Regions from separate parts of the Homo sapiens genome. Here regions 1, 2 and 4 are each reported to be linked to region 3. The links are microRNA targets in miRTarBase. Many come from high-throughput screens and were not tested one by one. Region 3 holds a microRNA gene; each other region holds the end of a gene's coding sequence. Distances are between the middles of the regions.
Evidence for each region. The annotated mature microRNA hsa-miR-4645-3p reads AGACAGUAGUUCUUGCCUGGUU and lies in region 3 at 2,080-2,101, shown strand. An mRNA with a match to its seed (bases 2 to 7 or 8) in the 3' UTR can be bound and repressed. Matches are read on the target gene's strand: a 7mer-m8 pairs with bases 2 to 8, a 7mer-A1 pairs with bases 2 to 7 and ends in A, and an 8mer does both.

Region 1: the mRNA of SEMA5A is a reported target of hsa-miR-4645-3p. The part of its 3' UTR that is shown has no 7-base or 8-base seed match.
Region 2: the mRNA of ZBTB22 is a reported target of hsa-miR-4645-3p. Seed matches in the 3' UTR shown: 7mer-m8 at 2,691-2,697.
Region 4: miRTarBase lists SERBP1 as a target of hsa-miR-4645-3p. Seed matches in the 3' UTR shown: 7mer-A1 at 2,375-2,381.

Annotation. Positions count from the first base shown.
Region 1 is chr5:9,040,300-9,043,500 of GRCh38, forward strand. It overlaps SEMA5A (semaphorin 5A), which reads right to left. Exons shown (of 23, transcript NM_003966.3): 23 at 1-2,717. The coding sequence ends at 2,598. Among named protein-coding and RNA genes, the nearest start is that of MIR4636, 12 kb to the right of the region's middle.
Region 2 is chr6:33,312,220-33,315,219 of GRCh38, forward strand. ZBTB22 (zinc finger and BTB domain containing 22) reads right to left here. Exons shown (of 2, transcript NM_005453.5): 2 at 2,199-3,000. The coding sequence ends at 2,793. It overlaps TAPBP (TAP binding protein), which reads right to left and starts at 1,859. Exons shown (of 8, transcript NM_003190.5): 1 at 1,786-1,859; 2 at 1,475-1,645; 3 at 998-1,258. The coding sequence starts at 1,822. RefSeq lists an enhancer at 2,413-3,000.
Region 3 is chr6:2,852,940-2,856,140 of GRCh38, reverse strand. It overlaps MIR4645 (microRNA 4645), which reads left to right and starts at 2,034; the gene lies at 2,034-2,110. It also overlaps the pseudogene SERPINB9P1. RefSeq lists enhancers at 748-877, 938-997, 1,574-2,314.
Region 4 is chr1:67,410,725-67,413,724 of GRCh38, forward strand. SERBP1 (SERPINE1 mRNA binding protein 1) reads right to left here. Exons shown (of 8, transcript NM_001018069.2): 8 at 1-2,539. The coding sequence ends at 2,483. Among named protein-coding and RNA genes, the nearest start is that of SERBP1, 18 kb to the right of the region's middle.

The DNA.
Region 1 (3,201 bases), not on the chromosome of region 3:
TTTCACCAGGACTTCCAAACAGCCCAGGCCTAAGGAAGAGCGGCTTTATGAAGGAGTTTCCAAGACAGGTGAGAGATCACACTGTGAAAGTCCAACATGTGAGGGTTCACGCGATAAGCGTGGAGTACAGAGCCAGAACATGTGAACGGTAGCTACACAGTGATGGACAAACACAACTTATTCCACAGCTGGTAAAATACTTAGAATATATCTGAAATTATCTAAACACTTGCTATTCTGTCAAATAAGAGAGAGAGAGAAAGGAAGAGAGATAAACAATTTTCCTTTGAACAGTGTGGTACGAAACAAAAATGGGATTCTTTTGCAATGCTAATTTCAAAGGTTTGTTTATATTATTAACAACATGAAGATCCTGTAGTGAGGGAGGGTGTTTTTCCCAAGTCATTGCAAAAGACTCATTAAAGACCAGCTTCGATGCCATTTAGAAACCATTTCCCATCAATTCCAGTGAAACATTCTTGAAATATTAGAATCCTCTTTACCAGGGAAAATAAAATGTCCCTTTAAGCTTACAAACTATTAGGGAAGAAGACTCAAAAATAACTAAAATGTGCTACAAAGTGAAAATGTTTTTTTCTTACAAGAAACTGATGAGATGAGTTGAAATATCTGATGATGAAAATCCAGCCGAGGAACAATTGGAGAACCATCCGGCTAGATTTCCCCTACTGAGTATGGACTTTGAGCATGTGCATATAGACAGAAGACTCTGACATATGAGGAATGAGTGAGAGGCAACATGAAGTCCCCACTGCAAAGACCCTGAATGTCATTAATCCAAAATAACTTACAGAGCCCACCTGCCATTTCAATACTGTGTCATCTCTGTAAATCTGGGTATATGAGAATATTTTGAACTCAACAATATTCATTATTAAACATAGAATTCTTCTAACACTTTCTGAAATTGTTTCTTTAAATTAGAAACAAAGATAAGGGTAAAATCACATATGCTAATAAAATTCTATGTTCCTTAGTCCCCCTACTATATTTTCTTTCATAGATCCGAAGGTTCATTTGTAAGAACACGTTTCCGTGTCTACCCAGGACTTTATCACATGCTCAGAGGCATCAGATGAACTTTTTCAGTCGTGTTCTTTTTTTCAATAATTATTCAACCAACTGCCATAGGTTATGTATTGGTTGTTTGTGAGAAAATTATATATTTTTTTCCAGGGACCTCTGTGAATGGTGTTAGCACACTCTTAAATGCTTATCGATGATCAGTGAAGAGACCACAGGGATCCCAAAAACCCTTACTTCCAGCTATCCTGACTTCCCAAGGTACATCTTGAAATGCTGTTGCCTCCATGCAGGGAGAGGTGAGGGTGAATGGACTGGGTGGGTGGGAAGGCAGCACTGAAATAAAAGAAAAGGCACCAGAGCTGAGCATCTCCTGCTCCCCTGGCCTGGAGGCAGCAAGTAACAGCAGAAACTGGGGGTAGCACTTCGTGTGGACCTGGCAGACTCCAGAAAGCCAGCTTTACATGGTATTAATGCTCGTGGTAGGGGCTGATTGCCACACATTGGGTATATCAGAGAGATGAAAAATAAAATGATTATCATTAATATCAGTTCTTTCAATATTTTCAATAACATAAAAAGTTGCTTTTAGTTATAATTTAGTATTTTCAATACTTTCACTAATTGACATCATAAATGTTCAAGATTTTTCTTTGCAGGGAGAGAGAAGGCATGGAGTCTATCCAAACGCTAAGTAAGTGGTTGGTTATTTTACAGACTGGCTCTTCAGGACGTCACTATGGACCAGACAGGTGGACTTCCAGGCCAACAGCATGGCAAGGAGCTTCCTGGAATGCCATGAAATCCAAAAGTCAGAATAAGGTGAGTTTTGCAGCAACCTGCAGAACACATCCACGCTTCATTGTGCCTGAGCCTCTGCTCCGCTGCCTCCACCAGCACCAGCAATGGCACAGAAACTGCATCAGGAGCAAGGTGGGGTGCCTCACAGTCTACTGTAACTTCTGCCGGTGTGGACCAGGTGGAATTCCTGGGCTTCCCAGGCAAGATGAAAACACTCAAGCTGCTTCCAAGAATCCCACAGCTTTATCCAGATTTGGAAAGTTGGGCAATCCATGGTGAATAATTGTTTGGCCACATTCTTTTTCTTCATTTTATGAAATATTATGGACCTATGCACTTCTTGTGGAAGGAGCAGGTCTTTCAGAGAAAGTGCCTATTTTCTTGAATTACAACATCATGAAGATTTACACTCCAAAGTTCTAAAGAAAGACTCCTTCCAATGTGGGTGGCACATTTATAAAATAATGCTCAAAAAACAAACCAATGGACTTGTCAGAAAAATAGGATGAACACAATTAAAAACTTCACACCCTGGCTCATTCAACAATGGTCAAGATTTTCACGATGTCTTATTTCAATTTTTGTTGCTTTTAAAGACGTGTATTTTTGGCAGCAATGGGACACTCTGGTGGCTTGAAATGCACTTGAAATGTATCCAAACTTCGACTCTGAAGCCTCAGAAACATGGGCAGTCATGGGGCACAGGCCTTGAGGAACTGGGGATTTACAAGAAGCCAAAAACATGAAAGCTGTTAGTACTCATCATAATTATTGAGATCTGTAAAGTAGGCATTAGAATAGGTCTTCCCAGTGAGATGTGGGTTGAAGTATTTGTTTCTTTCCTCTAGGATCAAGTTGTTTTTGTTAAATGCCTGGAAAATATATTAAAAAAAAACAGGTTTAAGAATGCTGAGTAGCATTTCAGAAATAATATAACAAGGATGACTATTATGTTGAATTTGAGCTCTCTGCTAAGACTCCATATTTTAAAATATGTTTTCTTATTTATTTGCTTCCCCAGATTATTTGCCCCATGGAGGACTTGCCTAATTACCAGAATAAGGTTGGCAGTTTGTGATATCTTCTGGTTAAGTTTTCAACTTTAGTTATGAAGTTACCACGAGAAGCAGGAGGTAAGAAAATCTAAATCTAAATCTCTAGAAAACCTAAAACTATAATGATTTCAAATTAACAGACACTTTGACTGTAACTGAATATATATAACTAAATTCGTATTCATATAACTGAATAGATATATAAGCAGCTTTCAGATGACCATGGGTGAGGACATTTATCGGAGACCTTGATGGAACTTATTTAAGTAAGGGCCTCAGGTTTCAAATGCCTTAATTGCTT
Region 2 (3,000 bases), 30 Mb from region 3:
CAGGGTGGGGGCTTGAGACTAAGAATGGAGGTATAGGCAGAGGTGAGGGTTTCAGCGTGGGTTTCAAGTCTGTCTCCCTGGTTCTGTGGGTAATTCTCAGGAGGGTGGAGGGAAGGGAGGGTGCAGGGATTGGTTGGGGTTGCCCTGTCCATCGGGCTGTGTCGCTGACATAAAATCCAGATAGAAAAGCTAAGAACTCTACCGGTATTCTACCCCGGAATACCCCGCCTCCGCTGCCAGGAGGGAGAGCTCCCAGATATCCAGGTCAGACTCTCCTCATTCTTGAATTATCTGCACAGTCCCTCCCACGTCCCAGCCTAGAAAAGCTTCTGACTCCTGGGCCTCAAACTGCAATGCACCTTTCAGTGCAATAGGAGCTATCCAATCTCCAGCCGCGTCCATCCGCCCACTCGAGCCCACCTGTTTGCGGACCACAGAGCGGCAGCACATCCCTACACGGGGCTGTCAGGCAAGGTCAACGCGCTAGAGTGCAAGAGCCTTTGCTTTGCGGATTGCCGCAGCGCCGGGTGTGGGCGCAGGTGGGGATAGAGTGCTGGGTTTTGAAAGAGTGACCCGCAAAGCTGAGGGTGCAGAGCAAGACACAGATCTGGGAAGAGCAGAGAAAAAACGCTCCTGCTTCTGAACCCCTCCCACCTCGCATCACCTGACAAGTCTCTCAAGGTCTGGTGTCGGGAAACCCCACCTCTTCAAAGCCCCGCCCTTCGAAACACCAGAAAGTAACCCCCCTGCCCGGCCCTGCTTTCCCCCTACCCCCTGCCAAGCTGCAGTTTTTTTTTTGTTTTTTTTTTTTAACTGGGTGAGGGCTAGAAGGAGCGGTAGAGATTGATTCATTCTAGCCAAACCACCTCTCTTAACAAAAAAAGGAAACTGAACCCCGATTGGCGAAATGTCTTGCTCAAGTCCATAAAGCGAGACCACCGGCTGATCTGGACCCTTAGAATCTACCCACCCTTCTCCACCTCCCCTCCCCAGCTACCTGTTGCCATGGTGATGAGAACAGGCTCCTGCTGAGGCTCTGGCTGTGGTCGCAAGAGGCTGGAGAGGCTGAGGACTGGGCTGGATATGCTGACCATCAGCCAAGCCCCATCCAGGGCCCGCGGGCAGTTCTGCGCGGGGGTCAGGCCGCTGGCCCATTTCGCAGAGGCGGGGAGAGGCACGAAGCGGCTCATCTCGCAGTGTGGTGCGGGGGCGCCCCGGGGATACCGCCTGAAGGCAGCCTGGAGGGCGCCCGCGGGGTCTGAGTGTAGAGAAGGAAGTTGCAGCTGTAGAGTCACCGCCGGGAAAGGGGCTGGAAGGGCAGCGTTCGGGGAACTTCAAATGCACAGACTACCCCGTAGTGAGACTCACTTTACAAAGGGGAAGCTGAGGCCTGAGGTCACTGCCGGATCTAAAGAGGAGGGGGTTTCGGTGGAGGCGACAGAGGTAGGGGGGCGGCGAGTCCCTAGAGACTCACCGTGTACACTGAGATAGAGCTCAGGGTCGAGGTCCGGCCGGGGCGGCGGTTCCCCCGGTCCCTGGCGCAACAGCAGTGCACCGGGTCTCTTGGCCAGGCCCTTTCCGCTCGCATCCTCCACGAACCAACACTCGATCACCGCGGGTCCTGCTGAGACGGCGGTCGCCAGGCCTGGCGTATAGGGACGCGAGTGAGGAGCGGTTTGTATGTCTGGTGACCTGCCCCACTCCCACCCTGGCATCGGCTCCAGTGGGGCCACCTCCCTCCGCTTCCCTCTAGTTCTTGGGCGATGAGTCGCGGGGTTCGCTCACCCAAAGCCACAGCGAGGAGCAGAGACAGGGACTTCATGGCGCTGCGACCTCCTCAGCCATGAAGCCTCCTCTTCCTCCTTTCACTTTCACTTTCCTCCAAAGGGCGGCATGAGGGGCGGTGGAAATCCCCGCTCTGGTTAGGTGAAGGTGCCTGGGGGACCGGTGTTTCCCCACTGGCCAGGCAGGGACCCGGGTAGATCCTCTCCAGTTCTCACCAGGACACCCCAGCCTTACCGCGCCCTCCTGGACTACCCAGCAGCCCCGAGTTCGAGCCCTCCCCAACCCCAGGCCCTCCCCCGCCCCCCAACTCCTGTGTGTGCTCTCCAACATCCACTTGCCCGAAAACCATTACTCCGGCTTCCCCCTATCTGTGCCGCGTCCCCAGCAAACACACGGGTTATCGGGAAGCCAAGTAAATGACCAATAAATATTTTAATCACTGTTAAAAAAAATAAAAACCTTGTACTCCTACGACTTACTCCCTCCTTGTCTCCACCCACTCCTCCATGAGAACCGAGTTGGGAATTTCCACGGGAAGTCGGGGGTGGCGGGGAGAGACAGGGTAGAAATAAAGAGCGCATCCTTGAGAGGGGGTAGGTTCTAGGACAAGGGTGGGGCTCAAAGGCCTTGTCTCCACGACAACACAAACACAGACTTCAGGCACAGACTACAACCACCTGACCCCTGACCCTGTGACTGCAGGATGTTCAACACGCCCCCTCTCCCTCCCTCCATGTGCAATCTACTCTGTGGAGCAGGGGCTTCAGTGTACCCATCAGAGGGAAAGGAAGGGTTTAGTTCTGGAAATACCTTGGGGGGGAGGGGTTGAGTAGTAGAATGGGCGGGCGATGGTGAAACTGTGGTTCCCCTTCCAGAATATATACAAGTCCACAGAGATAAAGGAAGACAGTAAGTGTGGTGGGAGATCACCCGGGGGCCACAGCGCCCTTGCATCGTGCTCCTTATTCCCTTTCCCGAAAGCTACCCCACCCCAGTAGCCTGCCCCTTCAGTTTGCTCCTCCACCTCCACCGAAGCCCATCTCCACCTTGTGGACTCTGGGTGGGGACCAGACACGTCTGCTGGACGGGGGCGTGGCCGCACTCGCTTCGTCGCCGCTGCCCCCGCCCACTCCGGGAGACTCTCTCTTGGACGGCAAGGATGGCCCCGTGGGAGTCCCAGGCCCAGGTACGGCCCCGACCCCGCCCAGGCGGTGC
Region 3 (3,201 bases):
AGGGCCTCAAAGTTAAAATGTTGAAATTATTTCCTAGTAATCTTACTATACTTAGAGTCACAGAGACAGATACACTGAAAAGACGGACAGAAATTACTTTAATGATAAAAGTTAAGCTCATGTTCCATGAAAGAAATGCCATAAGAATGTTTTCTAAATCCTATGCTTAACTTCGGAATAGCGCAATTAGATTGCATTGCATTTTTGAAAGATCACTTGTTAAATACAAAATTTTAAAACATACCACAATATTTGGCACTTCATTTTCTTTATTAAACAAGGAGACTCAGAAAATCATAGTGGCCTGGGCCCATGTGAACCTCTGTGAAAGCCTCCCACAGGGAGAGAGGACTGGGATGCCATGGTCCTAGGTGGGAATGGGGGGAGCAGTGTAGGCCTCGGTGCGGACCCAATGCTGGGGCCCTAAGGCTCTCTCCTCTTTTCTTCCAGGTGGAAAATGAGCTTATATATGAAGAAGTCAGCGAGTGGACAAAGCCAGGCGCAATGGATAGCAAAGATGTGGAAGTCTCCTCGATTCAAGTTACAAGAAAACCGCAGCATGGAGTCTGCTCTCAGCTGTTGGGGAATTACCGATGCCTTTGACTAAGTCAAGACTGACTTTTCCAGAATATCACCCAAGAGATAGAGCCGTCCCTGTCCAAGTTTGTGCGCTAGCCCTTCATGGAGGTCAGAGAGGAAGAAACAAAGGCAGCTGTGGCCTCGGCGGTCACAGTGTCAGAACGCACAAGCCCCATAAAGAGGTTTCACGCAGGCCACCCATCCCTTTTCATTCTCCAGCAGAACAGGACAGAGAGCGTTCTGTTCTGCGGAAGGTCTTCCACTCTACAAGGCAATCCCTCCAGCTGCTTTGCTGTATTGTGCTGTCTCCTGTCACACTATGAATGCAGTGACCTCAGCCAGCAACAGGGAGAACCCCCCTGCCTCCCGAACAAAGGACCTCACGTGAAATCCTGAGCTCAGAGCTTACAGATATGTGTGCGCTTTCACTTTACATCGGCCGTGACTTCCAAACAACTTCAGGAAACTTTAGGATCTCTGAGGTATACTGGAGATGACAGCAGCGTAGAATGTTCATTTGGATTTAGAACAGAAATGCTTATTTTATATTTGGCTGCTCCCAAACTGTCCCCAGACTTCCTCTCCAGTGGTTACCCTCCACTGCCCTGGATGTCCCACGTTTACACTCCACACTCACACCTCCACCTTAACAAAGTCCTCCACTGGGTCAAACCATACATCGCTTCGTCTCTGTAGTGATGACTTCCTGTCCTCTGCTCTGTGGATAAAGACCCCAGATAAAGATGCCTGTGTTGCTCAACTCTTGTAAATACTCTTGAGACATTTTGAAAGCAGAAGGAAAGGAGACAGACGGGGAAAATAAAAGGGATGGTCTGCTTGTGCGGAAACGTTTTGAGAATGCCCTTCCCTAAGAGAGAACAGTAAAAGTGAGCAATACTTCCTGAGCTGTGGGTTCATATGGCTGGACTGTGCTGTTTCTCACGGGAGAAGTTCTCGTCTCCCCTGCGTGTACATCCCTGTTTGCCAGCCTGGCCTTCGGTGTGGTGATATCATGGTGCACTCCCAGGAGGGAAGTGCTTGGTCAAGACTTCTGCTTGGGTTCGACTATCAGTTCTGGTTTCCTTTAAGGCACAGGATCTTCCCTTTAAGGCACAAACACCCCCTTGACACAAAGTAAGGGACAAGGGAACTTTAAACCATTTGGAAACCCAAGCACAATAGGCTGTAGGTTGTAAAAAGAAATTACAAAGGTAATTTTATCCAGAAGAGGGAGCAGTTTAACTTCTGCAGGGTAAGATTCAGATTCACTTTTGTAACTGAACAGGGAATTTTCTAAATATTTTGAAAATGCCGAAACATTTCCTGTTGGCATTTCACAGAAACGTTCAAAGTTCCCTAATGATAGTTTCCGCTGTGCTCACTCCGGAGGCTGCTAAGCAACCTCAGTAATTAGCTCGATTGAGGAAACGAAACTGTGGGGGACTCAGTTTCCATGATAGGGAAACCAGGCAAGAAATATTGTCTCCTCAAGTTGCGACGAGACAGTAGTTCTTGCCTGGTTTCTCTATCATGGAGTCTTGGTTGGACTCTGCTATGCGTCTCTTGATGAAATGTGATACTAGCAATTGAACAATTAAGAAAATGGATGGCGGGGGGTGGAGCGGTTTGTCACTACTGGAGTTGCAGAGGCTCAGTGGGGGAACCTGAGAAACACTGCGTCCCCCAGGTCATCACCGCGTCAGCACTGATGAGTCATGTTGATGGCATGGACCCTGAATATGACACAATGAGATGTCACTTTACCTCTGTGGCCTTTCCCAGAAAAAACCATAACCCCAGTCTAACCATGAGAAAAATATAAGACAATGGTGCAGGCAGGGCATTTCAGGAGAGGGTCAGGTAAAGGGGAGGGGGTCCCAGGAGAGGGTCAGGGGAGGGGACTTCAGGAGAGGGACAGGGAGAGGGGAGGGGGCTCCAGGAGAGGGTCAGGGAAAGGGGAGGGGGTCCCAGGAGAGGGTCAGGGAAAGGGGAGGGGGGTCCCAGGTGAGGGTCAGGGGAGGGGACTTCAGGAGAGGGACAGGGAGAGGGGAGGGGGCTCCAGGAGAGGGTCAGGGAAAGGGGAGGGGACTTCAGGTGAGGGTCAGGGAAAGGCGAGGGGGTCCCAGGACAGGGTCAGGGGAGGGGACTTCAGGAGAGGGACAGGGAGGGGGGAGGGGGGCTCCAGGAGAGGGTCAGGGATAGGGGAGGGGGGTCCCAGGAGAGGATCAGGGGAAGGGGTGGGGCTTCAGGAGAGGGTCTGAGAACACACAGGCAGGCAACACCTTAAAATCCCATCTCAGTCAGCAATGACTCCTCATAGGGCCACCACGAGCTTAAATGTCACTTAAATGTCCCTATTTGCCAGCCTGGACTTCGGTGTGGTGATATCATGGTGCATTCCCAGGAGGGAAGTGCTTGGTCAAGACTTCTGCTTGGGTTCGACTGTCGGTTCTGGTTTCACATGCACTGTGTGAACACGCTTCATACAGAGGGTCAGCACCGCACTGTGTGAACATGCTTCATGCAGAGAGCCTGTACTGCACCAGGTGAACACACTTCATACAGAGAGTCAGCACCGCACCGTGTGAACATGCTTCATACAGAGAGTCAGCACCGCACTGT
Region 4 (3,000 bases), not on the chromosome of region 3:
AGTTTGTCAATCAAAAGTAGCATTCAGTATGCTTAACTTTCATTATCAAAAAAGTGATCTGCTAAGAAGTGACAATCAGATTAAATCCAAGAAGTCCTTGGATTTTGTATTTTACAAGAATTCAACTTTCCCAATTAAGTCATTAGTCATTAAGATAAGTACCCTTCCCAAATGTGATTCAACAGCCTGGTTTTTAGCAAATAAAAACCCCATATAAAATTCAATTTAAAAATTATAAACACACAGGGGTGTGCACACAGGTCAGAAACCAGGAAACACATGACAATAAACATGATCCTATTTGATTGTTTTTATGACTTTTAAGAAGTGAGCATGAAAATAAATCTTTATTTTCAGTTATTACCCACCAATAAGAGAAAGTTAGGTTCACAGTTTTAGCTCTTGACACAAAGTGAACTAGGAGGCAAATTTATATCCATCAGATACAACTAATGCACCAACTTTTTAAGTTCAGGCTATCTTGAAAGCTTGCAACATACCAGATATTGCTATGTTGTCTCTCACGACAGCAATGGATGACACTGAGAAGTTGTGTTTTGAGTAGCAGGTGTTTTCTATAGTATGTTGCTGGAAATCAAGAGGTTTATAAAACATGGTACATGTTTGGAAATGAGTTAGATACTTGAAAAGTCTAAACACACTGATTTAGGAGTGCGTATGTTGCTGTCTCAATGAACAATGGGTCAATAGTTCATATGGACTAAATTAATCTCTGGGTAGCACGTATGTGTGTAAATATAAAATTATATTAGACATTAGCACCAGTGCAGAACATGCTCAGCATCATAAGATCCAAAACACCAGCACAAGTTTATCCATCATTAAAAACAATTACCTCCTTCCTAAAATGTCAGAATAGTAGGTAACTGAGATTAATAAATCTTATCCAAAAAGTAACTCTTATAACATAAAAGTTTCTTTTAGAAGTATATGTGAGAACCAATCAGCTAAATAGAAATGTTTAAGATTGAAGATGTCCAATATTTTTAAAACTGGACATTACCATATACAGGTAGAACATTTCTAAAAATGACGTGACAAACAATTCTTAAAAATTTTTTAAAAATTCCTTCACTGTTTATCAATAAATGTGGCAGAATAAAAGACAATCCTAGAAAACTTTTTTAATTCATCATTCTATGTGTGTTTTAATAAGTGGTGATGCTCCCATTATAGGAATCCATTATTTACCTAATTTTCTAATGGAGGAAGAGAGAAGAGATAATTACCACTTTCTGTGGAATACTCAACTTACAACCAAATAATAGCAATCTAGGAAATTTAGAAACAGTAAAGGTTTTTGGTTTATATTTCATGTATAGTGCTGCTGTTCCAACCTTACAAAGTAAAGCTGTCTGCTTCCCAAATTCCAAAAATTAAAATACTCCCCCACCTCACCCTACCAACCAGCGCCCTTTGGTTTTTGTTTTAGAACAAGGAAGGGTTAAATGGTGGCTGATTATGGATGTACCATTTTGATTTTGGGACCTTTCACACACAGAAATCATACCAAATGGCCAGACACTTATTTTACAGAACAGTTTAAATATTACACATTGGCCAAATCAACTTATTCCACCCACCCTGGTGAAGGGGGAGAAAAAACCCATACCTATAAAACTACTTCACTTGACACGATGTGCCTACCAACAATAAGTAGTTTAAACAACTTTCACCAATTAAGATGTCTAGTTTAGATTTTAAAATGGGAAACTCAAGCATTTAAAAAGTAAATATAGCTGAAAATGTAAATCAGTTATAATTTGAACCTAATGAGCCATGCAAGGAGCAAGGGTTAATAAACCAAATGTGCTTTGAATTTGTTCAAGTACTGATATTTCTGTATATAAAGATTTAGCATATATATATAACAGCTATCATGAGAAGTGAAAAAAGATTTTTCCCCAAAAATGAAAATATTAAAACTAAGTTAAAATACATATAGTTAGTATTCCACACAGCATAAAATTTGACAAATCAAAGTTTAACATGTCCCAGTTGACCATGTGTGAATATGCAAAGCAGGTATTAAAACCAGTATGTCCAATATTTAAAACCAGTTTGTAATTGGGGGAACTTCTAAATCCTTAATTAAAAAACACAAATGAAGTGAAAGCTTTAAACTGGTACACACTGTTCACACCTATATTTCAAGTTTGGAAATGCATATTTGCAAGCAGCAATACAAAAGTATTCATGAAGAATGCATAATCTCTGAAAATTATGAAAACATCCCTGCTACCAATACATTTCTAAATACAAAACTGACTACCATATTTGTTACTTCTGTGTAGCGGGAGAAGTTCATTTTTAAAACAGATAAAATTCAGTCTTTAGGTGTGAATGGTATGAATGACAGTCTTTTTTTTTTTAATTTCTTAGTCGTTTGGAATCCTTAAGCATGCAAAAGCTTTGAACAGAAGGGTTCACAAAGGAACCAGGGTTGTCTTATGGCATCCAGTTAAGCCAGAGCTGGGAATGCCTCTGGGTCATCCACATCAGGAGCAGAAGCACTTGACTGAAAAAGAAAAACCAAAATTAACCACAGTTCTCAGTTCTTCAAAATTACATTGTTAGCTAGTGTCTACATTAAGACAGAACTCTAAAAAAATCTTACTGTTGGCCAGGCACAGTGGCTCACACCTGTAATCCCAGCGCTTTGGGAGGCCAAGGTGGGTGGATCACCTGAGGTCAGGAGTTTGAGACCAGCCTGGCCAACATGGTGAAATCCTGTCTGTACTAAAAATATAAACAATTAGCTGGGTGTGGTGGCAGGCACCTGTGATCCCACTACTCAAGAGGCTGAGGCAGGAGAATCGCTTGAACCTGGGAGGCAAGGGTTGCAGTGAGCCGAGACTGTGCCACTGCACTCCAGCCTGGGAAACAGAGTGAGACTCCATCTCAAAAAAAAAAAAAAAAAAATCCTACTGTTAAAATTCTAGGTAAAATGTATCAAGACAAAATTATGGATCACAAAAA